7 linked regions of the Homo sapiens genome follow. The protein of the gene in region 7 interacts with the protein of the main gene of each other region in a biochemical or structural test. Each region holds a gene or a part of one and is shown on either strand. Other genes may lie near its edges.

The links.
Region 1: the proteins of SP1 (region 7) and NFKB1 form a complex in vitro, tested with the Homo sapiens proteins (one study listed by BioGRID).
Region 2: the proteins of SP1 (region 7) and CCNA2 form a complex in vitro, tested with the Homo sapiens proteins (2 studies listed by BioGRID).
Region 3: of the proteins of SP1 (region 7) and MAPK3, one has a biochemical effect on the other in vitro, tested with the Homo sapiens proteins (2 studies listed by BioGRID).
Region 4: the proteins of SP1 (region 7) and PPIG form a complex in vitro, tested with the Homo sapiens proteins (one large-scale study listed by BioGRID).
Region 5: the proteins of SP1 (region 7) and HIF1A form a complex in vitro, tested with the Homo sapiens proteins (2 studies listed by BioGRID).
Region 6: the proteins of SP1 (region 7) and EP300 form a complex in vitro, tested with the Homo sapiens proteins (4 studies listed by BioGRID, with this or other methods).

The regions. Positions count from the first base shown.
Region 1 is NC_000004.12:102,598,516-102,602,980, forward strand, and holds part of NFKB1 (nuclear factor NF-kappa-B p105 subunit), read left to right. Parts: exon of another isoform or gene 1-1,220; intron 1,221-2,379; coding exon 2,380-2,494; intron 2,495-3,129; exon of another isoform or gene 3,130-3,516; intron 3,517-3,999; exon of another isoform or gene 4,000-4,465.
Region 2 is NC_000004.12:121,818,062-121,821,496, reverse strand, and holds part of CCNA2 (cyclin-A2), read left to right. Parts: intron 1-405; coding exon 406-518; intron 519-731; coding exon 732-955; intron 956-1,917; coding exon 1,918-2,125; intron 2,126-2,583; coding exon 2,584-2,697; intron 2,698-3,319; coding exon 3,320-3,435. UniProt on the Homo sapiens protein: Cyclin which controls both the G1/S and the G2/M transition phases of the cell cycle. Functions through the formation of specific serine/threonine protein kinase holoenzyme complexes with the cyclin-dependent protein kinases CDK1 or CDK2.
Region 3 is NC_000016.10:30,116,594-30,120,866, forward strand, and holds part of MAPK3 (mitogen-activated protein kinase 3), read right to left. Parts: intron 1,946-4,273; coding exon 1,756-1,945; intron 1,571-1,755; coding exon 1,454-1,570; intron 1,192-1,453; coding exon 1,077-1,191; intron 693-1,076; coding exon 561-692; intron 411-560; coding exon 301-410; coding exon of another isoform or gene 244-300; intron 198-243; coding exon 75-197; 3' UTR 43-74; intron 1-42.
Region 4 is NC_000002.12:169,635,846-169,639,588, reverse strand, and holds part of PPIG (peptidyl-prolyl cis-trans isomerase G), read right to left. Parts: intron 3,498-3,743; coding exon 3,361-3,497; intron 3,177-3,360; coding exon 2,066-3,176; 3' UTR 1-2,065. UniProt on the Homo sapiens protein: PPIase that catalyzes the cis-trans isomerization of proline imidic peptide bonds in oligopeptides and may therefore assist protein folding. May be implicated in the folding, transport, and assembly of proteins.
Region 5 is NC_000014.9:61,739,767-61,744,231, forward strand, and holds part of HIF1A (hypoxia-inducible factor 1-alpha), read left to right. Parts: intron 1-738; coding exon 739-861; intron 862-988; coding exon 989-1,422; intron 1,423-4,465.
Region 6 is NC_000022.11:41,150,627-41,155,091, reverse strand, and holds part of EP300 (histone acetyltransferase p300), read right to left. Parts: intron 3,260-4,465; coding exon 3,080-3,259; intron 2,887-3,079; coding exon 2,742-2,886; intron 98-2,741; coding exon 1-97. UniProt on the Homo sapiens protein: Functions as a histone acetyltransferase and regulates transcription via chromatin remodeling. Acetylates all four core histones in nucleosomes. Histone acetylation gives an epigenetic tag for transcriptional activation.
Region 7 is NC_000012.12:53,413,385-53,417,235, reverse strand, and holds the end of SP1 (transcription factor Sp1), read right to left. Parts: 3' UTR 790-3,851; downstream 1-789. UniProt on the Homo sapiens protein: Transcription factor that can activate or repress transcription in response to physiological and pathological stimuli.

The sequences.
Region 1 (4,465 bases), on a different chromosome or scaffold from region 7:
TTCAAGCAGAGACACCTTTGTTCTCATTCCTTGCAACGTAACCAAGGATGTGGTATAACCACTGGCCTTGTTATACAGTATGAGAGGAACCAGTACAACCTTCTTGGTATAAAGCCATGAACAGCAGAATTCTTTTTCAGGGTTAAATAATCCAGTTAGCATTCAGTAGCATACAACCACAAGAAAAAGCAGTTAACCAAGACAGTACAGCAGTGTTTCAAGTGGCATTTCCAGGGACCTGTTAAATTGATAAGTCTAAGAAGATGAGCACATACAGGTTAGAAAGGAAGTGCTGATATCTGAAGGGAGGATTGTTGGAAGGGATACAAGGCGAGGCACATGCAAGTTCCCTCCTAAGACCCAAGCACACTCACACAAGCCGGCTCTCAGAGAGGCCACAGATTTGGGACTTGGAGAGACCAGAGGATCCTCATAAGAGCATAGGTATAGGGCAGCTTTTGGCCATCACAGCCCAAGTCTCTTGTTTTAATTCAGCTCGTCATATTTGGCTAATAGTTTAAATCCTGTGGCCATTAGTCATCATAGAAAATATAATAAAGAAAAATATATAAAACTTCTGCTATTGGGGAAATTCCCATAAGGGTGTGAGGATTTGAGGGGGAGGGGGAATGTACTTCTGCTATGAAATGCTGAGCGGCACATGGAAATTTTCGAGCAGTTTTAGAAGTATGACCTTTTTCTTGGTGTATGTGCATCATGTCTATGTCAGAGTTTAGGCCCTTTTCAGAAGTCTTCTTCCAGTATCACATTTCAAGAAGCAATAGTGAAACCCTGAGATCATCCGTTTTAAAATATTTCTCAAGTAGCAAAATCACAATTTAGTTTTTTAGGCTCTTCTGTGCCGGAGTTAATCCCAAGTACGATATACTTGCTATTGCTAAGGAAGAGGCTTGAGTAAAGTGGCACCTGATAGCTTATTTTAGAGAAGATCCAGCCTGTACCTCGTGTCCCAGATGTAGTGCTGCTGCGAGATGCTTTAGTGTGCTCTGCACCTCAATCTGTCCATGCTCTGGAGTGGTCATCTTCTTAGACATTCATCTGAATGTCTTTAGAACAGTGCACATGTATCCCCTATGCAGGATTGCTTAAGGGATTAAGAGATGGCTTTGGAGTAAGACAGGCCTGGGCTTGAATCCCAGCTTCACCACGTATTGGCCTTGACTGAGTTATATGACGCCTGCAAGTCTCAGTTTCATTAGCTGAAAAGTGAAGATAATATTACCTAACTCATAGGATTATTGTTATAGTAAAAAGACAATATATATCAAATGCTTAGCATAGTCTGGTAAATCAAAGCTCCCAACAAATAGTAGCCACTGGTAAAATGATTGTTATTGTTATTGTTTTGAATTTTAATAGTATGTTTTTTAATAATTAAAAGAATTACGCTCCTGTGAGTGACTTTGACACCACCAGTATGTTCAGCCTCATTAGCGTAAGCTCTTAAGTTCCTTCTATCATTCTTATTTTTGTGCCTCTACTGCATGCTAGGGTTGTAAGGCTGACTCAGACAGAACCTGCCCCAGAGATGACAGGACAGAGAACGAGAAAAATGTGTAGAAAACTGCAGTTGCATAACCAAGCAGTAAATTTGAGAGGGACAACTTGCTCCACCTAGGAGGTTAGGAAAGTATTCTCTGAGGATGTCAGGTTTGAACTGGAATATAAAGGATGGAGTAGGCATTGTTCAGGCAGAAGAAAGGAGCAAAAACATTCCAGGCAGAGGGAATATTTGCTGGAATGTTTGCAGGAGTGGTGGGAAATACAATCACTTTGTTTCTTCACAAGTTTACTGCAAGAATTTTCTTCCAGTAGTTAAAAGCTTCACTCCATTCTCCACTCTTGGGATCTGGAAAGATCTTTAAAAAACCACCACACTGTATTTTGGAGGAGGGCAGCAGGGCTAAGTGAGGTAACTAAGTTTTTCTGAACAATTCCTAGTGCCAGGCATTCATTTTACATAGAATCTGTGTGTCAGGAAAAGTCAGGGGGAAAGGTAGAGAAGAAAACCGCCCAAAGCCATGGTATAGAGGCAGGATTGGGATTTAAGCTTAGGTCTTTCTGGGCTGGAAGCCTCAGTGTGTTTATACATCAAGGGGTCAAGACCTGAATGCTCCCAGAGGCCAGGAAGGTACCACAAATAACGTAGCAGCCTTGGGTAGGCAGTTGGGAGGGACCAGTCCTCTGGAGACAGCATCCCACCTCAGATTCAATGCATTTTATAGATTCAAAACATTTTAGGGCCAAATAAAACTAGGTATGAGAGCAGATTCCATTCTTGAGTCTAATCACATCTTGGGAATCTTTTCTTTTTCATTAACATTTTAGTTAATTATTGCCACTGTGTTTTCATTCCAGTGTCTTACACTTAGCAATCATCCACCTTCATTCTCAACTTGTGAGGGATCTACTAGAAGTCACATCTGGTTTGATTTCTGATGACATTATCAACATGAGAAATGATCTGTACCAGGTAAGCAGAAATCTCAAGAAAACAACTGAAGAAAAATCTGTAGTTTACTTTTTCTTCTGTTATGTTTGGGTGCATGTTATTTTTAGTAATGTTAACAGTAGCAAAAACAAAAACAAACCTTTGTAGGTAATATCTAAAATCCCATTAGTTGAGAATGTTACTTTATGATGTAGGATCCTTTGATCTGTGGGTATAACAGCCATCAAGCCACAATGAAATTCAGCATCCCGCTGGGGGAAGGCAAACTTTAAACTTTAGAAATCAAACAGTTTTTTCATTTAAGAGGGAGAAACTAAAGTAAAAATGTCACATCTGTCAAGAAAAATAAAGTTAAAAAAAGTTTGAAAAGCCAGTAATTTATAATAATTTTGAAGTCTACTGAAACATACCTTGACAACATCCAGATTAAATGTATATCAAATGAAGCATTCTGAAATCACCACACAGAAAGGTTAAAAGTTTGCTTGAGGAGGAAAAGGTGTCTTTCAAAAGCAGAAAGACAGCTCCAAGTGAGGAAAAGTGGGAACACCAGAGTTTTGCCCAAATCAGGTTTTCTTAGGAATTAATTAGGTGGGCTGAAAATACAAGTTGAGGAACTGTTTTTTCCAGAGGTCTTCCAACACTGCAAAGGGAGAGTTAGCTGGAGACACAGCGAGGCCCTTTGATGGGCATATGCAGAATTCAGGGAGAGGCAAGGAGCCTGGGAGCCACTTCGGCAGAAGCAGAGCTTGGACGTTGGTGATGGGAGCCCAGTGACCCCAGCCAGCCTTTCTGGCTGAGCGACTGCACTGGCATGAAACCAAGATGGGGTTCGGCTCCTGAGGTTTCCTCCTTCCTGCCCCTGATTGCTTTTCCCACCTCACTGTCTTTCCCCTACTCCCACCAGTCTGCTGTATGGGGCTCCTGCCCTTGCCCACTTCTTACCTTTCCATTTGTCTCCTTCCCTTCATCGACCCGAAGCATCTTCCTCATCCTCCTTGGAGAGATGGTTTGCTGGTTCACGTGTATCTCTCACTCCAAAACTATGGCCAAAATCCTGTGTAATTATTTACTTAGTAAAGATATTTGTTCCTGCTCTCTCAGTTTTTATAGCAGTGATGTGAATCATTTCTATTTCCTCACTTTAAAGGAAAATGCTTTTATTATTTTAAAGAAAATTAATTAAAACTTCATTTTCTTTAAAGGAAATTAAAATATCTATTTTCTTATTTTTATTTCCATTCTTTAAAATGTGCTTTAGGCTGGGTGCGGTGGCTCACACCTATAATCCCAGCACTTTGGGAGGCCGAGGCAGGCGGATCATGAGATCAGGAGATCGAGATCATCCTGGCTAACATGGTGAAACCCCGTCTCTACTAGAAATACAAAAAAAAAAAAAAAATTAGCCAGGCATGGTGGCAGGCGCCTGTAGTCCCAGCTACTCGGGAGGCTGAGGCAGGAGAATGGTGTGAACCTGGAGGCTGAGCTTGCAATGAGGCGAGATCGCGCCACTGCACTCCAGCCTGGGTGACAGAGTGACGCTCTGTCTCAAAAAAAAAAAAAAAAGTGTGCTTTAAAGTGCATTTAAAGCAAAACTACTAAAACGTTTACATGTGGCTCTTAATAGTTTTTACCTGTGACTAGGTAAAAATTAATAGGTTTCCTGATAGGGGAAAATGACCATTTTTCATTCAATATAAGTCACCATTAGGCTTCTTCACTGGCTCTTGTGCTTCTTGTCAAAGGAAAAGTAAAGTTAGTGACTCTTCACTGCCTGTTAATATAAAATAACTAGTATGAAGTGTGATTGTAGATTTACATTTAAAGGATGTCTTCTTGAAACTTTCATACCGTTTTGGGGTCATTGGTATCCGTAAGGTCATTTTGCCTGTAAAGCTTGATTCTCGCAGACTTTTGGCTGATTGTTCCTTGTAGTCATCACAAATCTATGAATAAAACCAGGAATGGGACATTGTAGCTTGTCAGTCCTCT
Region 2 (3,435 bases), on a different chromosome or scaffold from region 7:
GTCAGACTCTGGGATCTGCAGTTTCTCTTGGGACAAATCTTAGATATTATCTCAAAACTTGGATTTTAAAAGTGTTCTGTCCTAACAGAACCACCATGCCATTTGCTCCTTTCTGTTGTGGAAGATGGATACTTTAAGATAATACCTGATTCTCATTTTCCTGTTAGGGGCCTACCAATATGTTTTTTTTTTTTTCCCTCATTAACTAAAATCATTCCAAAGTTCTATGTACAGAGATACTGAGACTAGGGTAAAATATTCTACATATTTTGTCATGAGAAGCTCTTTTTAGTTTGAAGAAATAAGTGCTTTGTTAATATGAGATTCCTTCCATGGCAGTCATTTTTAGCTATTAAACTAAATAGGCAAACAATTAATTTAATCATATCTTTTGAATTGTCCCAGAGTCACCACATACTATGGACATGTCAATTATATTAGAAGATGAAAAGCCAGTGAGTGTTAATGAAGTACCAGACTACCATGAGGATATTCACACATACCTTAGGGAAATGGAGGTAAAGGTTCTCTGAATCCAGTTTGTATAATGTATTTGTTAAATGTGGCTAAATGAAATTGAGAGGATAATGTTTAAATTTTTAAACTAATGAATTATTCTAATGCTACAGTTAAGTTTATAGCATGTAGCCTCTCGTAATTAATGGTAAAATAATCTAATTGCAGTTTTTACACTAGAATAATTTTAACACTATAAATAATTTTCTCAATAGGTTAAATGTAAACCTAAAGTGGGTTACATGAAGAAACAGCCAGACATCACTAACAGTATGAGAGCTATCCTCGTGGACTGGTTAGTTGAAGTAGGAGAAGAATATAAACTACAGAATGAGACCCTGCATTTGGCTGTGAACTACATTGATAGGTTCCTGTCTTCCATGTCAGTGCTGAGAGGAAAACTTCAGCTTGTGGGCACTGCTGCTATGCTGTTAGCCTCGTAAGTCTACCTTGGTTTGTTTAAAAGTGATCACGACCTTTTGTCTAGGGAAGAAATTGATTTTTTTAATGGTGACCTTTTAACATACACCAGGCAGAGTCAGTGACTACTTTAGGGATGGCAATGTGCTGGGGCTTAGGGCAGTGGAGGAGGATGAAACTGTTCTAATCTAGAACACTAATTTTCCCCCAACTGGATTCCTTGAACATGATATAGTACACTAGGTTACAAATTTTAAAACATTTTCCTTCCAATATTACTTTCTGGCATATAAGCAGTGTCTCTTTTATTAAGAAGTAAAGGCTGGGTGCGGTGGCTCGCGCCTGTAATCCCAGCACTTTGGGAGGCCGAGGTGGGCGGATCACTTGAGGTCAGGAGTTTGAGACCAGCCTGGCCATCATGGCGAAACCCTGTCTCTACTAAAAATACAAAAATTAGCTGGGCATGGTGATGCATGCCTGTAATCTCAGCTACTAGGGAGGCTGAGGCAAGAGAATCGCTTGAACCCAGGAGGTGGAAGTTGCAGCGAGCTAAGATTGCACCACTGCACTCTGGCCTGGGCGACAGAGCAAGACTCTTGTCTCAAAAAAAAAAAAAAAAAAGAAAGAAAAACTAAATTTAAAAATGAAAACATGAAACATGTTTTCCTAAGACTTGTATTTCCTAAATTTTCAGCTACTTGGTGAACTCTGGCATTGTTCCCATCTCGAGAAGTCTCATGCCTTTCATTTACTTCCTTTGACTGAACTGGGGAAAATATCTCAAAAGTCCTTTATTGATTTGGGCCTTTTAATTAGCAATTAGCTATCCAGTCTCTACTAGAAATGATGATCAAGTGTCTGGAAATGCAGTTGGTGTGGATTTTGGATTCATTCCATATTCTGCTAATGGGATTTCAGAACTGGGATAAGGAAGCTTGCTTCTCTTTTAGGACTGATTACTTAAAACTTTTTTCATTGTAGAAAGTTTGAAGAAATATACCCCCCAGAAGTAGCAGAGTTTGTGTACATTACAGATGATACCTACACCAAGAAACAAGTTCTGAGAATGGAGCATCTAGTTTTGAAAGTCCTTACTTTTGACTTAGCTGCTCCAACAGTAAATCAGTTTCTTACCCAATACTTTCTGCATCAGCAGCCTGCAAACTGCAAAGTTGAAAGTTTAGCAATGGTGAGTTAACTTTCATTTTGTTGAATGGTGATTCTTTGGTAATAATTAGGGGTAAGCCCTAATTCCTTTGTAAAGGAACCTAGTTCCTTTGTACAGCAGTGGTGAAGAGATTTAGTATTCAGAGGGAGATTAATGCTGCAGTATGGAAGAAAGCCTACTGCTGGCAAAAGATAATCTATATCAGGAAAGCACTAGAAGCAGAGGTCTAAGGATGACATCTTGGGGATGGGTAGTCAGAAGAGTTGTTTTTTAAAAGTTAATAAAGGAGGGAAAATACAGGATGAGGATGGAACAAAACACTAAAATGATTGATATGTTTAAAGATGAGGCTGTGAGATATTTTTTCTAGAGTTGCTACAGAGCCGTTATCAAAGGCAGGAAAAAATTAGGTTAGAAGGCAGAGGTTTGACATTTGAATTCTAAACGCTCTTGTGATCATAAAGTATTTTTTATTCCAGTTTTTGGGAGAATTAAGTTTGATAGATGCTGACCCATACCTCAAGTATTTGCCATCAGTTATTGCTGGAGCTGCCTTTCATTTAGCACTCTACACAGTCACGGGACAAAGCTGGGTATGTATTACGGTCTTCACACACCTATCTTGTGACTGAAATGCCTGTGCCAGATTAAATAATAATTGTCCTACAAAACTGAGGGTTGCCTAGATGTTCTTACTTGGAAAAACTTCAAATATATATAGTTGACCTTTGAAAAACACAGGTTTGAACTGTGTGAGTCCACTTACACATGGATTTTTTTCCAATCAAATGTGGACTGAAACTACAGTATTCAGGGGATTCACAACCCATATATATGGAAGGGTGACTGCAGGACTTGAATATGTACAGATTTGGGTATATTTGGGAAGGGTCCTGGAACCAATCCCTCATGTACACTGAGGGATGATTATATACTGTTTAAGGCATGTTACCTGTTGAACAGTGTTTGTTAGGTAGTAAGCTTAGTTGTAACTTGGATTGAAAGGTGAGCTTTTTTAAAAGCATCTGACCTGTTGCTGGCAGGGAAAGTAGTAGAAAATGGATCGAGGGATGGAATAATGGCCTGAGAAAACTAGTAGTTGGAAAAGTTAAAGATTAGTACTGGAATTTAACATAAGCTTAATGCCAACTATTTACTGTGTTTGGTGTGTTACTAAAAGCAAAACTCAGGGGTTCTCTATTCCCTTCTCTGTAGCCTGAATCATTAATACGAAAGACTGGATATACCCTGGAAAGTCTTAAGCCTTGTCTCATGGACCTTCACCAGACCTACCTCAAAGCACCACAGCATGCACAACAGTCAATAAGAGA
Region 3 (4,273 bases), on a different chromosome or scaffold from region 7:
TTAGTATCAGGGTGTCCATGTGTGGGCCATGGAGACACTCACCAGGCCCCAGGGTGCAGAGATGTCTGTCTGGGCTAGGGGGCCTCCAGCACTCCGGGCTGGAAGCGTGCTGTCTCCTGGAAGATGAGCTCCTTCAGCCGCTCCTTAGGTAGGTCATCCAGCTCCATGGCGAAGGTGAAGGGCTCCTCGGCCACTGGCTGGGGTGGTAGAGACAGCAAGGCTCAGGCCTGGCATGGGGGATGCCTACGTGCCCCCCTGCTCCCCTGCCCCCAGCCCCACTGCTGCTGGGGACTGGCCCACCTCATCCGTCGGGTCATAGTACTGCTCCAGGTAGGGGTGAGCCAGCGCTTCCTCCACTGTGATCCGTTTATTGGGGTTAAAGGTTAACATCCGGTCCAGCAGGTCAAGGGCTATGGAAGGGCAGGAGTCAGGGGTCACAGGGAAGACTGGAGGAGCTCCGAGAAGCATTGCTTTGCCTGTCTCCTCCAGCGGCTGCTGGGCTCACACACCCTCCACGACACCCAAGGTTTATCCCACACCCACCCTCATGTCTCTCGAACCTTTGGAGTCTGACTTGGGGAAAAGCTTGGCCCAAGCCACCTTGGTCTTGGAGGGCAGAGACTGTAGGTAGTTTCGGGCCTTCATGTTGATGATACAATTCAGGTCCTCCTGGGATGGGGAGCCCAGGATGCCTGTGGATAAGGAGGTGACTTGGTAAATGATCACCTCTTTCTTTCTGGGAACAGAATAGGCAACAAGGCAAGAACAAGACCCCCCAGCCCAGCAACCCATGCCAATCCCTCAGTCACCTCCTAGTCATTAGCATGGTGGTGCAGAGCAAGGGGGCTGGGTTCAGGCAGACCGAGGCTCAAATCCTAGGTCTGGTGCCTCCTCAGGTGTGGGACTTAGCCTTGCTTTTCCCATCTATCCAATGGGGATAATATCTATACCTCATTGAGATACCATGAGATGCTGGAGGCACCCCACACGTGGTGGTATCCCTGACTTGGACTCTCGAGAAATCTCACCTCGGAAAAGCTAATCATCCCCAACTCAGCCAGCCGGGCCTCCCTCACCCAGAATGTGGTTGAGCTGATCCAGGTAGTGCTTGCCAGGGAAGATGGGCCGGTTAGAGAGCATCTCAGCCAGAATGCAGCCCACAGACCAGATGTCGATGGACTTGGTATAGCCCTGGGGGAGAGGAGGAAGTGGTGAGCTCCTGGGCCAGCCTCAACAGGGTCCTGTTGTCTGCGCCAGGCCACCACCTCCAAGTTAGATCCAACACCAGGCAGAAGGCAGAGGCCTGGAGGGCTCAATGCTCAGCTTCCTTGCAGAGCCCAAGGCCCAGAGGGTAGAATTCCTGTGTCATGGGGGTCAGTGTCTGGCTCAGAGGTAGCTCCAGGGCTTCCTGGGAACTGGTCCGTTCCTTTCAGGAGTGGGCAGCCCCTCCTACCTTGGAGTTCAGCATGATCTCTGGGGCCCGGTACCAGCGCGTAGCCACATACTCCGTCAGGAAGCCGGTGTGGTCATGCTCAGGATCGGCAATCCGGGCCAGGCCGAAATCACAAATCTGGAATCAGACCTAGCTGCTAAGCTCGGCGCTCAAGGCCTCTGCAGCCTAAGCAGTCACGCCCCCTTGTCTTTGCCTCCACTGTTCCCTTTGCTTGCAATGTTCTCCTGCCCAAGGCTTCTTCTACTGGTCACTGGAAGCCCCAGACCCTGGGGGAGGAGGGGACAGGTGCCCAACCCTCTGACCTTAAGGTCGCAGGTGGTGTTGATGAGCAGGTTGGAGGGCTTTAGATCTCGGTGGAGCACGTTGGCGGAGTGGATGTACTTGAGGCCCCGCAGGATCTGGTAGAGGAAGTAGCAGATATGGTCATTGCTCAGCTGCTGGCTTTTCAGCAACTTGTACAGGTCAGTCTCCATCAGGTCCTGCACAATGTAGCTGAGGATGGTTCCGCAGACCCCCCCAGGCAGGGGGCAGTGGGAGGCACTTGGTTAAGGAAAACAGGCTCTGAAGGCGAGGCTGCACACCTCCTCCAGCCAGGGCCCCTGGGACTCAATAGATCTGCCAACCTGCACCACCAGCTGGGGAAGCTGCTGCCATTACCCAGCGGCAGGGCTCTGAGCCTCTGTTGCATCACAGTTGCTGATCCTGAGCAAGGGGCTTCATTTCTGAGGCCTCAGTTTCCCTACCGGGGAAACGGGGATAATAATAAACTGTGGGAGGCAGGAGAACTTCACAGTTAAGAGCAGCAACTTGGGCCAGGAGTGGTGGCTCACACCTGTAATCCCAGCACTTTGGGAGGCTGAGGCGGGAGGACTGCTTGAGGCCAGGAGTTTGAGACCACCAGCCTGGGCAACATGGCAAAACCCTGTCTCTACTAAAAATAGCAAAATTAACTGGGCACGGCGGCATGTGCCTGTAATCCCAGCTACTCAGGAGGCTGCAGCACGAGAATCACTTGAACCCAGGAGGCAGATGTTGCAGTGAGCCAAGATTGTGTCACTGCACTGCAGCCCGGATGACAGAGTGAGACTCTGTCTCAAAAATAAATAAATTAAAAAAAAAAAAAAACCTACAAAAAGAGCAGCAACTCTGGAGTTAACCCATGGATGTCTGAAATCTCCTCTCTACTACTCACTGGCTTTAGGATCTCAACCTGTCTGTGCCTCAACTTTCTCATCTGGTATGTAGGGGAAATAATGTTTTTTTGTTTGTTTGTTTGTTTTCTTTTTGTGGAGATGGGCTCTTGCTCTGTTGCCCAGGCAGGTCTTGAACTCATGGGTTCAAGTGTTCCTTCCACCTCGGCCTCCCAAAGTGCTGGAAATTACAGGTGCAAGCCATGAAATAATGGTTCTTTTGAGGGTGGTTGTGAAGACTAGATGAGATGGCGCATGTAAAGCTGTCAGCCCAGTGCTTGGCAAGTTGTGAGTGCTAGGCAAACATGAACTATTATTACTAATATGAATGCCTGAGTCACATGGCTGTTGAGGGAGTTAAATGAGATAATGTATGAACACCATCTGGCATGCAATAAATGTTTGCTTAAAAATAAATGCCTGCCTTATGGGAATGGTTTGTGCAAGAAAAATGAGGAGACACTCCCAACAGCACACTCCCACTCAAAGGAGAGTGCTTGGCCATACCTCAGAAGATGGAGGAGTAAAATGTCTTTTTCTATTTGAAGATACAAAAAAGCTTATGCGTAAATAAATAAATAAATCCACAAATGCTGTTTGGCTTGTCTCTAGAAAAATAAGTCAGGGCTGTCTTTTAGAATCTGCCTTGAGACCAGGCATGGTGGCTCATGCCTGTAATCCCAGCTCTTCAGGAGGCCAAGGTGGGTTGATGACCTGAGGTCAGGAGTTTGACGCCAGCCTGGTGAACAGGGCGAAACCCCGCATCTACTGAAAATACAAAAATTAGCCGGGCGTGGTGGCAGGCGCCTGTAGTCCCAGCTACTTGGAAGGCTGAGGCAGGAGAATAGCTTGAACCTGGGAGGTGGAGGTTGCCGTGAGCTGAGATTGAGCCACTGCACTCTAGCCTGGGCAACAGAGGGAGACTCCATCTAAAAACAAACAAACAAAAAACAAAGAAAACAAGAATCAGCCTTGAAAGGGTCTTCAGAGAATATGTGGACCAGCCCTGCTGTTTTAGGGCTGGGGAGGCCCAGCGAGACGCAGTGACTTGCTTCAGATCACACAGCGAGCTGGGGGTGAGCACGGAGATTTCCTGTCCACAGTTTGTGGTGGGGGTTGCAGACACCTCAGTACAAATCCCCACTCTTGGGTGGAGGGCTGGGACTGAGAGTGGGTGGGTGGGGCAGGGAAGAAGTGACAGGTGTCATAAGTTGCTAAGGAGAGCCAGACAGGAAGTGGACAGCAAACTAGGAAAGCAGTATTGGGGGAGGACAGCCAAGGCTAGGCTGTCCCTCCCTGGGCAAGGTGCAAGTCCACAGGTGATTAGGGTGTGGCTCTGAGTGAGAAGTCCTAAGAAGAAGGACAAGTTCCCATCTGGGGGAGGAGAGGAGGAGACAGCAACAGAAACACTTGATTTTAGGTTTTCTGAGCCTTAGCTTCCTCATCTTTTTTTTTTTTTTTTTTTTTGACAGGGTCACGCTCTGTCCCCCAGGCTAGAGTGCAGTAGCACAATCATAGCTCACTGCAGCCTCGAACTCCTAAGCTCAAGCCATCCTCCTGCCTCAGCCTCCCAAGTAGCTGGGACTATAGTCGTGTACCACCAAACCTGGATAATTTTTAAATTTTTTGT
Region 4 (3,743 bases), on a different chromosome or scaffold from region 7:
TTTGATAACCCAAACAGAATATTGCCTATAGAAATTACTACAATTTTTTTCCCTATGGTTACTTTTTGAAACTCTAAGATTTGGAAATCCTTATGTATAATTTTTAGTAGATAAAGCTCTGGGATCAGACAACATGTAAGAATTTTTACTTAGCATGGACTTAAAAAAAATATTTAACTGTTATTAGAAATCCTTTCTTAAATAGCACCTTTCTTAAAGCTCAAATAGTTTATAACAACAATTTTAAAATGCAGTTAACTGAAATTAAGACAAACAATAACTTGCTTAAACTACATAACGTTATATAGCTTGGGCACTCAGACTCAATTATCCCTAATGTGGGTTTGTGGTCAGTCTCTAAGGAATCAATCACCTTGGATTTTATAATAAACATCTACTACTTTTATCATCGGAAAAAAAAATTTTGGAAAGAATTCATTGTGGATATCTGTATTACAATTTTCCAAGCAATCTTATGGTCATTACACTATTCATTCTGCAACAGCTACCACAACGCCAAATATATCAATATTGCATTAATCAATAGTGGGAAGTATCATGTTAATAATTGCTTTATTCAGTACAAATAGCATTGAGTAGCTACTGGATTTACCAAGAAGCTACCTTGGTAACAGAGTTGACACTACACTGACAAATATTAAAGTACAAAACTCTCTAGAGAATCCTATTAATTGGAATTTTGAAATTCCTTTTCAAATGAGGCAGGTTTTATGTTTGCTGGATGTTCAATGTTTTATTTAGAAGAGATTACAGAATAAAAGGCCACACATCACAAAAATGGCAAAATACAACACCCAAAACTCTAAATGGACTTTGGATATGTTTAGTGTTTAACTCTGTAAACTATCAAAATTTGCAACTTTCTACTCTACTCTATATGGCAATGTTATACATGCCAAGTTAAAATAACATTAACAGTAATGGTATAAAACCACCTGAAGAGAAAGAAACCAGAGTCATAAACATGCTATAGCCTATCGTGATACATATATAGAAAAGATGCATTTTCTTGCCATTTGGAACTCACAGCTATGAGAGTTAGAGAAGTCAGTTCAATTAAAACAAACAAAATCCATGCAGAGTTAACACTCAATTCTATATAGGTTGGAGGCCAAAAAAGAGAAATCTTAGAAGTTAATGTCTCAATACTAACAATTTTTAGAATCTGTATAGCTTAAGGACCTGCACAAATGGTATGTTTTAATGAGAAAAGCTTTTTTTTTTTTAAAGTTTAGAGAAGGGTAATTAATAATTAAAACGTTCCCAAAACTCTTCAAACCAAAAGCAACACAGAACTGAGAATCACAATCTGATTTTCCAAGGTATAGTTCCTGTCAAATGCTGTATAACAGCAACTCAAGCTCAATCAGTACATCAACTGAAAAAAATTACTCTTACGATTTTTATAGGCAGTTAAGTAAAACACAACTAGACAGGAAAAGCATTAATAGGAAACAAGCTATGGCTCGAACTATAAAGAATAGAGTATGAAGTGCAATATAAATACATCTATTTTAAAGCACAAATTACTATAAAATCAAAAGTGATGATTTAAGATCTCAGGTTATTAGGACCCTGCTTCTGTGTAATTAAAAGAAACCGCTGCAAACCTCTATTTATAACGCAATCAGAAAATCTATACAAGATGTCTTCTAGTGGCTTCTAAAGTTACTTTAATCATGAGAAACACAAGCTTTTGCAACAATGCATTGCAACCATTCCAAATGGCTGACTAAACAAATTAGGATGCTATTGGCTAATTGTTGCAACACAGTAATGCATACATAAAATAGTTAAACACAGCACACAGTACTACACCAAAGTGTTTTTCTCATGTCGAGTTTATTAAAACTTTAGCAGTACAAATTATCCAGATTGCAGATTATCAAAAAATCAACTCAATGAAATCCACATTAAGAAAAAAAAGGACAAACATAAAACAATCCAAAAACAATGAAAAGGAAAACAACATAAAGGAGATTCATTAGCAAGTCTCTCAAACTTAAAATCCGAAACAGAATGGAAGTAAGTTTATATAACTCACTCATCCGCTTTTGTCTTCATCTGTTCCAGGGCTTGATTCATGATCAAATTTTTTATTTTTTTCATGTACATGGTCATTTTCTTGACCTTTTGATTTTTGGTTTTCTTTTTCCACTGAGGATCTGATCTTCTCATCCTCCTTATTTTTCAACATGGAGGACTTTAATTCATTGTCCTGACTGCTTTGTTTTATTTTTGAGAAGGGACTTTGATCTCTATCAGCCTTTTTTTCCCTGCTGTTATTTGAGCTATTATGATCACGACTTTTAGAGTACATTCTTTTCTCACTCTCAGAATTTTCTTTTCTGTGTGAGCTCTTACTCTCTTGGTTTCTGTATTTGTCTTTGTTTCTGCTTTGACTTTCTTCTCTCTCTGAGCTCCGTGAGTCTCTCCTCCTTCTCCTCCTATCTTTACTTCTTGATCTTCCTGGTGGTGTTCTTCTCTCTCGGCTTCGTGACCGTCCTCTTCTCCTGTATTCCTGTTCTCTGTATCTATGGTACTCCTTGCTTCTGCTGCGATCTCTGTCATGGGTTCTTGATCGCACTCTTCTGCTTCTGTCCCTACTTCTGCTTCGTTCTCTTGTTCTGCTATTATAACTGTGTTTACCTTTAGTTATATCACATTCTCTACTCCTGGATTGTGCGCGTCTATCCTTTTCCTTACTTTTACTGTGATCATGCTCATTACTCTTTGATTCTAACTGTTTAGACTTCTCTTTACTTCTACTCCTTTCCTGATCTTTTCCTTTAGAATCAGACTGCTTTTCTTTTTCTTTAACATTTTCATGATCCCTTCCTTTACTCCTTGACCTCATCCTCTTTTCTTCATTTCTATTATGTTTTGAATCTCTTTCTTTACTCTTTGATTTCTCTTTGCTCTTACTCCTACTTTTAGATTTGGCCCTTTTCTTCACTTTGTTTTTATACTTGTCATCTTTTTCTGAATTTCTTCTGATGTCTCTCTCTTTGCTGTTAGATTTATGGTCTTTAACTTTCTTCTCCTTTTCATTTTTTCTGTTTGGACTCTCAGATACATTCCTGTGATCTGTTATTTTTCTCTCTTTTACTCTAACTGGACTTCTCTGATTTTCTTTTATTTCATTCAACTCACTCCTAAAAAATAAGAAAAAGAATTGGGGAAATGTTATTAGGAAAAGAACTGTAGATATTATTAGCTAAAATGATATTCTACTTTTCTTAAGGTATTCAGCAATAACTAAAATGACAATAACTTTATGTATAATAGTAAAAGCAAACACTTATCATTACATTTGAAATAATAATAGTTAAATCTTACTTATCCCCCTTGATCCATCTTTCACCACTTGATACCCTCATTCTTTGAGCTCTCTGCATCTCTTGCCTCCAATGTGGAGGAGTCTCACTACGTCTGAAACGATCCCTTGATCTGGATCTGGAAGGAGTTCGATAACGCTAAAGAAAATTAAAATAGGGAAAAATTAATGTATAGAAGTATAGAGGGACTCGCATGGGTGCTGGGAGGGAGGGAAGTACTGGGGTGAGGGTCAGGAGGTAGTAAGGGGTACAAAATAAAAAAAATATAAAAAGCATTGAAACAGTAGCTTAAAAGTATATGTTTCCAGGTTAAAATAAAACGTCTGATATTTCTATACCCTGAAAATTACTAAAATTTCCCAATTTTCATATAGGAAATCAATG
Region 5 (4,465 bases), on a different chromosome or scaffold from region 7:
AACTTAGGTTTCTACTCCCACCCCCGACAGTAACAGTGAGATTTTTAGGTAGCTCAGTCACCACAGGAGTGTGCCTTCTCAGTTCAAAGGTAAATTCCAGTGAATGTAGCATCTAGTTAATTGGTCAATTAGGTACCATTGTGGGATGTGAATTACCAAATAGGTTTTATTCTTTAGAATAAGGTGTTTCTTTTCATCTCAATTTTGTAAATGATGTTATATTACATAGTCAGAAATATATATATTGGCAAAATTAGTTACCAGTATAAGCTTCAAAATGTCACTATTTTCACAAATTTTTTTTTTTTTTTTTTTTTTTGACATGGAGTCTCACTCTGTCGCCAGGCTGGAGTGCAGTGGCATGATCTTGGCTCACTGCAACCTCTGCCTCCCAGGTTCAAGTGATTCTCCTGCCTCAGCCTCCTGAGTAGCTGGGATTACAGGCGTTTGCCACCATGCCTAGCTAATTTTTGTATTTTTAGTAGAGACGAGGTTTCACCATGTTGGCCAGGATGGTCTCGATCTCTTGACCTCATTATCCCTCCACCTTGGCTTCCCAAAGTGCTGGGATTACAGGCGTGAGCCACTGAGCCCGGCCTAGTTAAATAAAATTTGATAAACACGATGGACTTGGTTGTGTGTTTTCTGGTTTTTCTGAGATCTAGTTTGAAAATTCTGACAACTAGCAAAGTATATGGAAGCTTCTTCAGGAAATAGTAAACATATTTCTTTTTACAGCCTAATAGTCCCAGTGAATATTGTTTTTATGTGGATAGTGATATGGTCAATGAATTCAAGTTGGAATTGGTAGAAAAACTTTTTGCTGAAGACACAGAAGCAAAGAACCCATTTTCTACTCAGGTATATGAACTTATTTGTTTTATATTAAATTTCATTAATTTTTAGTCTGAAGTGACTTTGAGTTTCACTTGTTTTTTATTTATAAGGTGTGGCCATTGTAAAAACTCATGTATTTGCTGTTTTAAAGGACACAGATTTAGACTTGGAGATGTTAGCTCCCTATATCCCAATGGATGATGACTTCCAGTTACGTTCCTTCGATCAGTTGTCACCATTAGAAAGCAGTTCCGCAAGCCCTGAAAGCGCAAGTCCTCAAAGCACAGTTACAGTATTCCAGCAGACTCAAATACAAGAACCTACTGCTAATGCCACCACTACCACTGCCACCACTGATGAATTAAAAACAGTGACAAAAGACCGTATGGAAGACATTAAAATATTGATTGCATCTCCATCTCCTACCCACATACATAAAGAAACTACTAGTGCCACATCATCACCATATAGAGATACTCAAAGTCGGACAGCCTCACCAAACAGAGCAGGAAAAGGAGTCATAGAACAGACAGAAAAATCTCATCCAAGAAGCCCTAACGTGTTATCTGTCGCTTTGAGTCAAAGGTATTTATATGTAACATTCAAGTTATAGTTCTTTTATTATTTTTGAGATAAATGTATGTGATAGTACATGATTTTTAAACTTATAGCAAACTTTCTGATATATATGCCCTAACGCAAATTCTTGAGAACTCAAAAAACTTTCTAAATTAACCTCATATATTTTTTCTTTTTCTTTCTTTTTTTTTTTTTTGAGACAGAGTCTCGCTTTGTCGCCCAGGCTGGAGTGCAATGGCATGGCACCATCTCAGCTCACGGCAACCTCTGCCTCCTGGGTGCAAGAGATTCTCCTGCCTCAGCCTCCCGAGTAGCTGGGATTACAGGCATGCACCACCACGCCCGGCTGATTTTTTTGGTATTTTTCATAGAGACAGGGTTTCTCCACGTTGGTCAGGCTGGTCTCAAACTCCCGACTTCAGGTGATCCGCCTGCCTCAGCCTCCGAAAGAGCTGGGATTACAGGTGTGAGCCACCATGCCCGCTCCTATTTTTTCTAAAATAATTATAAATTCTAAAATTACCTATCTAAATGGAGGAGGGTCTTCTGACACCTTTAAAATAAAATCCAGCTCAGTACTGTAAATGTGTTTACAGAACTTGTTTAAAGTTCTTACAGTTGTTTAAATCAGACTAGTTAACTACCCTCACTACTTAGATGCTTCCATTTCTTAGAGCTCTTTTTTAAGCTTATCTGAAGAAAAGCCCTTCCAATTTAAGGGTTATTTCCAATTGCACATTCCAAATTGAGCCTTCCATCTTCAGCATTCAATATAGATATTTACAGGCCCCTCTTTTAAAATTTTATTATAGTTAACTTGTATTAAAGTTGCTTTTATTTTTCATTACGTATTTGTAGAACATTAGCTATATATATATTGCAGGCTACATAGGTTTTCAAACTGTACAACAGGAATCTAAGCATGAATTGTTACTTCTATGGAGCTAGTTCAAACAAACATATGGACATGACCCAATTTTTAAGTTATACTTTCTGTATATAATTTGTAAGGGGATTTCACATATTTTAAGTTTGAGGCTATAGCTAGAAGAAATTAAGTTTTATCTAATAAGTGTGTGGAAAAGGGAAATGATTCCTTCTCTACTATGTCTAGACTAAGCCAGATATCAATAGCAATAGGAAAGAACCACTGTCGTAGCCAGAACACATAGCTTTTTTCCCTGCCTAACATTCCCACCTTGACCTAGAGTGCTGGGAGAGGTCTTTTCCCTAAGCTTGGAAAAGACATTGGGGCTTTAGATGAACTCAGAAGTACTTTACATTACTTTATTTACTGTGTCACTTACTCACTTTTGACTCTGAGCTCCACGAGGGCAATCACAGTGTCTTGGGCATTTTAGTGATACTAATACTTAGCTCATGACCTAATGTGTAGTACTTCCTCAATAAATGGTTGTTGAGGCAGGGCGCAGTGGCTCATCACTGTAATCTCAGCACTTTGGGAGGCTGAAGCGGGTGGATCACCTGAGGCCAAGAGTTTCAGACCAGCCTGGCCAACATGGTGAAACCCGGTCTACTAAAAATGCAAAAATTAGCTGGGCGTGGTGGCACGTGCCTGTAATCCCAGCTACTTTGGGAGGTTGAGGCAGGAGAATTGCTTGAACCCTGGAGGTGGAGGCTGCAGTGAGCCGAGATCGTGCCATTGCACTCCAGCCTGGGCGAGAAGAGTGAAACTCGGTTTCAAAAAAAAAAAAAAAAAAAAAAGTTGTTGGACTGACAGATGCATGAATACAGTAGTAAAAATGACAATCACTTATAAGTTACAGTTTACTATCAGCTACAGAGGATGGGATATCCAGTTTTCTGAACAACTGTTCTCTTGTACTTGTCAAAGCCAAAGTGTAACAACACATCAAGTCACTTTAGCAATTTATTTTTGAGACGGAGTTTTGCTCTTGTTGCCCAGGCTGGAGTGCAATGGCGTGATCTCGGATCTTGGCTCACCGCAACTGCCGCCTCGCTGGTTCAAGCAAATCTCGTGCCTCAGCCTCCCGAGTAGCTGGGATTACAGGCATGCACCACCACACCCAGCTAATTTTGTATTTTTAGTAGAGACAGTGTTTCTCCAGGTTGATCAGGCTGGTCTCAAACTCCCGACCTCAGGTGATCCACCTGCCTCAGCCTCCCAAAGTGCTGGGATGACAGTTGTGAGCCACTGTGCCCAGCTAGCAACTGTTTTTAAACATTAGTTCCAATGTAGTGTACACTGAAAACTTTTATGAAAGGAATTTCAAAAATTAAGATAAACCATTAAAAACGTAATTACTAAGTACTACTACTACTACAATGATATTTACATAATAGACTGAGTTACATTTCATAAAGACAATATATCTGTATAAGAATTTTTAAACTTCCCTGTCTATATAATAGAAGTTTTAGAGAAATTTTTTAAAAACCAAAGAAAACTGCAAAATAAGATCACTTACCTATTTGGCATTCTCAACTGTCTGGAACAGCAAGGAGCCATTATGATTATGCATTTGGTTTGTGGGGTGTCTTGAAAAGTCAAAATAATGTAACAAAGCTGATGTACTTTACTCATTAGAACAATTCTTCACAATTTAATATTAATTTTAGATATACATAGTTCATGTTTGATAACCAGATCAATACTGAGTGAAAAATAGCATAGTGGGAAGAGCAGGGGAGGGGAGGTAGGGATCTGGAGACCTAGAGTGTACTTCCATATTGCAACTAGTGAGCAGTAGGACTTTGAGAAAGTTACCCAATAGGCCTCAGGGTTCTAATTTATAAAATGGGTATGATATGCCTGCCTTATCTGTCTTGGGAACTTAAGTAAGGTTAAAATGAACTAATGAACTTGAAATGTTTTATAAACTGAAAATGCTATACGAATGTGAGATTGATCTTGTATTTCAATAGTCCCAACAATATCACTGCATTGTTATATTAGGTGGAATAAAAGGACAATATTTAACTGTTTTGACTCTACAATAGTGTCAATTTAGTTGTGTTCAGCTCTATTTTATAAAATAGGGATACGCATACTGTAGAAAATTTCCTG
Region 6 (4,465 bases), on a different chromosome or scaffold from region 7:
TCCACAGGTTGACGAAAGGGAAGGGATTCTGGATCCTGACGGTAAAGTGCCTCCAAAGTTGGCATCAGTGCCTGTCGTAGTTCTTCTGGTTTGAAAACTTAAAAAAAAAAAGTGCATTTGAAATTAGTTACCAATTAAGCAGAAGAACTTTAAAAAATCATTCAGCCTGAAGCTCTAAAAGCATCTCAAGAATCAATAACAAAATTAACCACTCTGTCCCCATGGAAATATCACTACAGGCTCAATCACTGATTCTAGATTCTAAGCCCCGCTTTGTTTCAGACAGCTCCTAAAAAACATTGTGTCTTATCACCTTAAAACACTCTTCACCCTCAGCTTAACTTTTCAGTCACAAAGTCAGTGAAGACAGACTCGGTCAATTAGAAGCAGAATCCAAAGGCTTCTAAAAATTTATGAAGAGACTTTGCCAAATAAGAGTCCATGGGACCAGGCACGGTGGAGGCTGAGGTGGGCAGATCACTTTGAGGTCAGAAGTTTCAGCCTGGCCAACATGGTGAAACCTCGTCTCTACTAAAAATATAAAAAATTAGTCGGACATGGTGGCATGCTAGTCTCAGCTACTCAGGAGGCTTGAGGCAAGAGAACTGCTTGAACTCGGGAGGCAGATGTTGCAGTGAGCCGAGATGGCGCCACTGCACTCCAGCCTAGGCAACAGAATGAGGCCCCATCTCAAAAAAAAAAAAAAAAAAAAAAAGAGTGCACAAGATACTCGTGTTAAGAGGGAGATGCAGTCAAGCAAGAACAGAAAAGTCTTTCTTCATGACATCAGTATTTAACAAGTCAGAAACTAGACTAGATCAGGTATTGTCTTATACTACAAGGAGTCAGGGGCACAGAAGAGAAGACTCCTTCGTTCAAATGCTTGGTATTTTAGAGCCAAAGAAAAAGAGACATGTACTATTTTAATGACAAATGTTAGGTTTAAGTTTAAAAGAAGAGAGAACAAAAATGGTATTGCTAAAATAATAGACTTAGTTGATCAAATTAAGTTCAAATGTGTTCTCAATGATATTTCCCAAAAAGTCCGGAAAAATTTGTTGGTGTGTCCCAAATGGAATCAAACAGTTCTTTGAGAAGCCAGTGATTTAAAAAGCTTTCAATTTCAGCAAGGGCCTTATTTTTTCTTAATTGGCAAAAAAAATTTCATCATCGGTAGAGTATATTTGTTACTTCAGATAATTTTCACCTCTGGGGGGTTGCCATGGAGTGGGGGGAAACCAGACTACGAAGATGCTTGTCACTCATATTTAGCTGTGCTAAAAATAAGGACTATTTGAATAAACTTGTGAAATTAGACATTTTATTTTATTTATTTGTTTGAGACAATTACTCTCTGTCACTCAGGCTGGAGTGCAGTGGCGCCATCTTGGCTCACTGCAACCTCCTTCCATCTCCCGGGTTCAAGTGATTCTTCTGCCTCAGCCTCCCAAGTAGATGGGACTACGGGTGAGAGCCACCACACCCGGCTAACTTTTGTACTTTTAGTAGAGACAGAGTTTCACCATATTGGCCAGGCTGGTCTTGAACTCCTGACCTCAAGTGATCTGCCCGCTCGGCCTCCCAAAGCGGTGGGATTACAGGCATGAGGGAACACACATTTTAAAGAGAGATTGCCAATAGTAAGACTGGGTTTGTTACAGCCCATATTAAAACACCTCAATATATACAAGTCTTATTTTTAAAATGAAAATAATTTTTTAATCCCAACATTTTACAACACATTGTATTAATGGAACACTTTTCAATATATATCATCTGTAAGAGCCAGCAGACTCACTCCTCAGGTATGTCCTACCTGGTGCCTTTTGCAGATCACTAGAGCCACAAAAGTTCTAGTCCTAAAATAGTCAATTAACACTTGTTGGAATGGCTGGATTTGAGCACTCTGCCTCAGACTGCCTGGGTCTGCTTCCTGGCCCAGGCAGTAGGGTCAGCTGAGTAACCTGTGGAAAGTTACTTAACTTTGCTAAGCTTCAGGCCAATAACCTCAGAGCTGTTGTGAAATTATTAAATGAGGCCGGGTGTGGTAGCTCATGCCTGTAATCCCAGCACTTTGGGAGCTCGAAGCGGGTGGATCACCAGGTCAAGAGATCGAGACCATCCTGGCCAACACGGTGAAATCCTGTCTCTACTAAAAATACAAAAATTAGACGGGCATGGTGGCATGCGCATGCAGTCCCAGATACTCGGGAGGCTGAGGCAGGAGAATCGCTTGAACCTGGGAGGTGGAGGTTGCAGTGAGCTCAGATCCCGCCACTGCACTCCAGCCTGAACAACAAAAGTGAGAATCCGATTCCAAACAAAAAAGAAAAGAAAAAGAAAGAAAGAAATTATTAAATGAGACAATGTGGATACTTAGCACACAGCAGGTGAATGACAAATGCTATTACTATTGCTATTCTTTCCTGCATTTTAGTCAAGGCTATTTACAAACATTTCTCTCTCCTGAAAAATGAGACAATTTTTAGGGTGTACTAACACAGGGAACCCTGAAGAAATGAGGGGAATGACTTAACTCATTGGTTGCTGCAAGTGAATATTAAAAAAAAAAAAAAGAAAGAAAAATTATTAGTAACAATGAAGAGACCAGGCCCAGGGCTTCCAGGTTAATGAAATCACAATAATGGCAACTTCTGAGGCCCAAGAGGCATGACCGCAATTCTGCCCTGGGTCTTTGGTTTCTTCAGCTACCTCCAGAACGAATGGCTTCAGAGACTCACTCTTTTTCTTTGACTGTCCTGGAGCCGGAGATGACTGGGTAGCTGAAGTACTTGGCTGGTCTTCCTCCTCTTTTATTTCAGTTTTTAACTCAGTGCTTCTCTCTTCTGTTTCGGTAGATTCCATTTTACAGTCTTCCACTTTAGACTAAAAGAAAACGTAAGAATTTTTAGTATTCCAAAGATATCTAGTTGGGAATCAGTAATCTGAACACCCTTTCTCATGCAAAATCTATGCCATGAGATCTAATTATCAAAATATTTTTCTGCAATATTTTTTAAAACTTGGGTTCCTATACTGAGGTCCTAACCAAATCAAACAGTAATTGCCCTACTCTCACCTCTGAAATATCCTCCGGCTGAGTATCTGCTGGTTCTGGTTGATCCACTTCCATTTTGGCCTCCATCTTCACTTCCTGGGAAGGCTGCTTCTCAGCAATGGCCTGAGAATTCACTTCTGTGCTACTAGTAGATGGAGGATTTGATACCTGTCCTTCAATGCTTACAGCTGGCTGGGAAAGCTGGGCAGAAAAAAAAGGGAAGTAGGTGAGACACACGCAGAGTCTGCCAACGATACAATCAGAATGTAAGGTAAGCAACAGGATAGCAGAATTAGCCACCTATTTCTTGGCTTATATTTATTCATGGTGCTTTCATTTGCTCTGCCCATTTCACCTCCCTTAATTATGCTTAAGAACAGGAGAATTAAGACTTGTAAATACTGGTTGGCTGATTGTACATCAAAGAACCAGCAACTATTTCATTGATAACTATCATTATCTGGCAGTGTGTGGGGATTTCAAAGATGTCTGCTTCAGAGGAGCTCACATTTATACAGAAATGAGTGAAAGAAAATAAGAAAGACTGGCTTGTTTTTACCTTCTCACCAGAGAAAGTTTCAAAGGTACAGAAAAGGAGACAATAAATATAATGATGTCCCAGAGAGTGGCTGTTTTGAATCGCTAGATTCTAATGAGATAAACTGGCATTCCCTATCTTTATCCTAAGGCTTGTCATAAGAAATCTCTTAATGAGAAGTCAGTATTTTCTGGAAGTATCCTTGATTTTATAAAGAATAAAATCAAGCAGATCCACTGGTTCCTCTCTCATTCTGTCCTTCCTTGTCTATCAGAGGCCACGATGAACCAGCCATCCGTCAAGTACAGTACTTTATAAAACGGCTGTGACTCATGGAACTTCTCAGTTCATCAACATGGCTGAGAACTATTGGATACCGATATATATTAATATCGGTATCAAAGTAGAAGCTTCTAAACCCTTAAAAAAAGTTCTATTAATAAGGATTCAACTATTAGATGAGAATTTGGATTTTTATTATATACATAACCAACCTCTCACAAGGAAGCTACAGGTTGTTCTGGGTCTATAATTCTCTCATCTTATTTTTAAACTTTGGTTTGGGCCACAAGGACTCATAAATCTGCAATTTTTTTTTTTTTTTTTAGACGGAGTTTCACTCTGTCGCCTAGGCTAGAGTGCAGTGGCGCAATCTCGGATCACTGCAACCTCCACCTCCCAGGTTCAAGCCATTCTCCTGCCTCAGTCTCCCGAGTAGCTGGGATTACAGGCACCCGCTACCATGTCTGGCTAATTTTTGTTATTTTTTTGTAGAGACAGGGTTTCACCATGTTGGCCAGGCTGGTCTTGAACTCCTGACCTCAAGTGATCTGCCTGCCACAGCCTCCCAAAGTGCTAGGATGAAAAGT
Region 7 (3,851 bases):
GCTGGGAAAATCTGAGCAACAAAATAGTAATGGATTATAATCCATGTATAAAATAAATACACATTAATACATACTAATATAAATTGACTAAACAAATGAGGGAGAAGAGACAAACCTTTTTTTTTTTTGAGACGGAGTCTTGCTCTGTCGCCCAGGCTAGAGTGCAGTGGTGAAATCTCGGCTTACTGCAAGCTCCGCCTCCCGGGTTCACGCCATTCTCCAGCCTCAGCTCCCAAGTAGCTGGGACTACAGATGCCCGCCACCACGCCCATCTAATTTTTTGTATTTTTAGTAGACAGTTTCACCGTGTTAGCCAGGATGGTCTCGATCTCCTGACCTCGTGATCCACCCACCTCAGCCTCCCAAAGTGCTGGGATTACAAGCGTGAGCCACCACACCTGGCCACGATGTCAGTTTCTTAATTTTGACAATGTACCATGGTAATATGTTAACAATGAGGGAAACGGGTAAGGATTATATGGAAACTCTGTTCTAGCTTTACAACTTTTCTGTAAATCTAAAATTATTCCAAAATAAAAAAGCATATGAGAAAAAAAATAAAGTTAGTGTTGCCTGTTTGTCTTGGTCCTCCACATTTCCGTGTAGTTGTGGCACATTGATCTGGTCATGAAACCATTTACCCGGGAGTTAAATATAGGGCAATTGCACTAATTAACATGTATGGAGCACAACACAGTGTAGCTGGAAACCTTTGTTAGGTTCAGAGTATGAAGTTACAAACGTACACTCTCACCATTCCCAACCCTCTTCAATACACCAGAGACATGGTTTTTTATTAAAAAACTTTTTAATTGGTTTACAAAGGAGGCTACAGACTACATTGAAACTAATCTTTGTACAAAAGGCCAAAAAAAAAAAAAAAAAAGTCCCAAAACACCAAGAGACAAAAGGTAGGAGGAAAGACAAGAAAGGAAGATACAAAAGGAGCAGGAAGAAACTTACTTAGGGACAAGATTAGCATCATACATACCTAAGAGTGGGGGGTGAGGGGGAAGAACAAGATGAGAGAGCATTTAAAAGCATTTACCCACACAGCCCTGGTGATAATTGGATTGGAATCAAAACAAACACAGCATGAGATTATTAAGAGGTTTTAAAAGGCAACAGTGGTGTGGACTGGTTATTGCCAGTGTTAAGAGAGAAATAAACTTGGGTTTTTAGGCACCAGAGATTGGAGCACCACCCATCCCTTCCAGAGGATGACAGACTTAGGAAGGGGAAGCAGGCCCTGGGGCAGCTGCCACTGGTGTGTGTAGATGTCTCCTCAGGTCAATCTCAGTGTATCTTCCCCGAAGTCTTTGTGCCCTAGACTCTAGGTAAGGGCTATGGGATTTCACTGGGAGAAAGGGATGATCAAAAATATGAAGACCTGCCCTTGTCCACAATGTTCAAGAGCAGTTACCGGGAAACTGGAGCACTGGGTAGACAGAGCCCATATCCCTGGGGAAAAGGCACAGTGTAATTCCTGAAGGCAAGATATGGGAAAGCACACATCCCAGCAGAGGTATCAACAAAATCCTCACTACTTGCAGCCCTAGTCTAATCCCATTTGTTAGGCTTTTTTTTTTTTTTTTTCCCCTGATACTTAGCTAGGACTTAGGGCAGTTGAGAGGCAGATCATCATGCCTCTACTTTCTTAGCAGAGACAAGGAAGACTGGGGCTGTTTGATAATGAGGAAGGGGAAAATGGGACAAAATACTCCTCTTTCAAATGAACACTGTGGAGAAAATCTTTCTGGGTTTGGGGAAGTCAGAGTAAAGACTTAGGGGAGTAATAAAGCCAGAGACCCCCCTTCTTTTCCTTTCCCTGCCTTGGATCTAAGGCAAGTGAGCCAAATTTGGAAGAGGGAGTAGGAATTTAAGCTTAAGGCTGCTTAATGTCTTCCTGGGGGCTGGTGTTTTGGGAAGGCAGACAAAGAGAAACAGGTCAACCTCAAAGCTGGTCTGCTCATCCTCTTAGAAGAGGTCTGGTATCTGTGGAGTAGAGCCAAGAGAGGCACCACAGAGAGCACAGTCTCCCAAACAGAAGTAATAACCGGCTCATATTTTATCAGCAGTTTTCAAAAGCAATGTTTTCCGGGGTTGGAGAAGTGCCATATCTTCCTCCCTTTCCCCAAAGCTACTGCTGCGACCTTTCTTTCATCCTTGTACATAAGTTACTGGCTCTCTTCTAAGGGAGATAAATTCTGAGATTTCACATTTTCCCTCTCAACCCCAATAGGCTACCCAGCTTCAGTGAGGGGGAAGGAGAGCTATGCAAAGGGCCCCTCACTTGAGGCAGCTAGACTGTCCTTATTTCCTTGGTACCTGATCTCCAAAACTCTTGATCTGATCCCAAGGTCCAAAAGGCATCAGGGTACTTACACTGAAAACTTCAAGCAAGTAGCACCAGGGCTCCCCCTAAGCATAACAGGGGCCTGATTAGCACCCCAGAAGAACCCCTCAAAAAGTATATAAATTTATTGCGTCCTAGCAAAGATCTGCAGCTTCCAGTATTCACACAATGTGAAGATATTAACAATACAAAATATATTTTGAAAGTCAAACACCTGTAGTTCATAGTGCTTTTTTAGATTTGTTAAAAAAAATACAATGCTTAGTTTCCTATATAGGATATACAAAAGCAAAAAATATATATGTATATAGTAGAAATAAATCAGCCATAGTAATTTACAGCTTTTGTCTCCAACCCTCCCCTAATCATAATCTTTATCCCACACTTCAGTATATACTTTCTGGGATCAAAGGATCAATTTATTCTGAACCAGGCTGAGAAATATCCATTAAATTGCATTCTGTGTAGCACCCACAGAGTGCCAGTTGGAAATCCCTGAAGGAAGACGGTGTGGGTTGTTACTGTTCTGGGTAAAAAGTGAGACAGTCAAATGACATGTAAATGAATATAAATGGGCAACCTGAAAACCTGAAAGGATGAGGGAATAAGTGTTTTACTATCTCACCACTCTTCTGGGCATCCCCTGCCCTGCAAGTTTTGGTCATCTAAAAAATTTAAAAAACTCATTCAAAAAAATGAAAAAAACTTAGGAAAAAAATTTCAGAATCAATATGCATGTCAGTTAAATTAATTTCTGTTAGCCAAAAGTTCAGGGAAACGGGGTTTTTCTGTAATAAGCTCCTGACTCAAGGAATGTAGGCTCCAAACTTCCTGTGGAAGAGACTGAGTGGCTCACTACTGCTGGGAGACAAAAGAAGCTGCTTCTGTTTTGAGGCCAAACAAGATACTGGATCTGGAGCTTCCTTGGTGTGAAGAGAACAGGGCAAGTGGAAATAATTAGATATAAATTCACTCATGGTAATGCTAATGAATAGGGTTGAGGGTAAACCAGCAGCTTTTCATTCGAGAAAGAAATACCATCAAATTACCTTCTAAAAGCTTATATCCTCAGCATCATTACATTATTTTATATCTGGTAATTTCATACTGGAGAAGATTCCATTCCTTGAAATGCACTAGCAAAATACTGTACATTCCAGTGAGTTATCCTGCCCCTTTCCTCCAAAAGATGCCAAAGTACATGATTACAGACATAAAATAACAGGTTCTGAGTTCTGCCTTTCAGTGAGAATAAAGGGTATGATAGTGGCTGTGCATGGATGACTTGTATCTCAGCGTTAATAGAATTTGATCTGGGGAAAGTTCCTTGCCATAGTTCCTGAGTTGAAAACATAATTACATCTGTGGAGAAAGGACCAAATGGAGTGAACTATTGTTTAGAGTATTAAGTTACTATAGTTCAGATTAAACAACACACTTACCCAAAACTTAATTTGGATGGATTTTATATAAAATATATAATAGAATCATACCA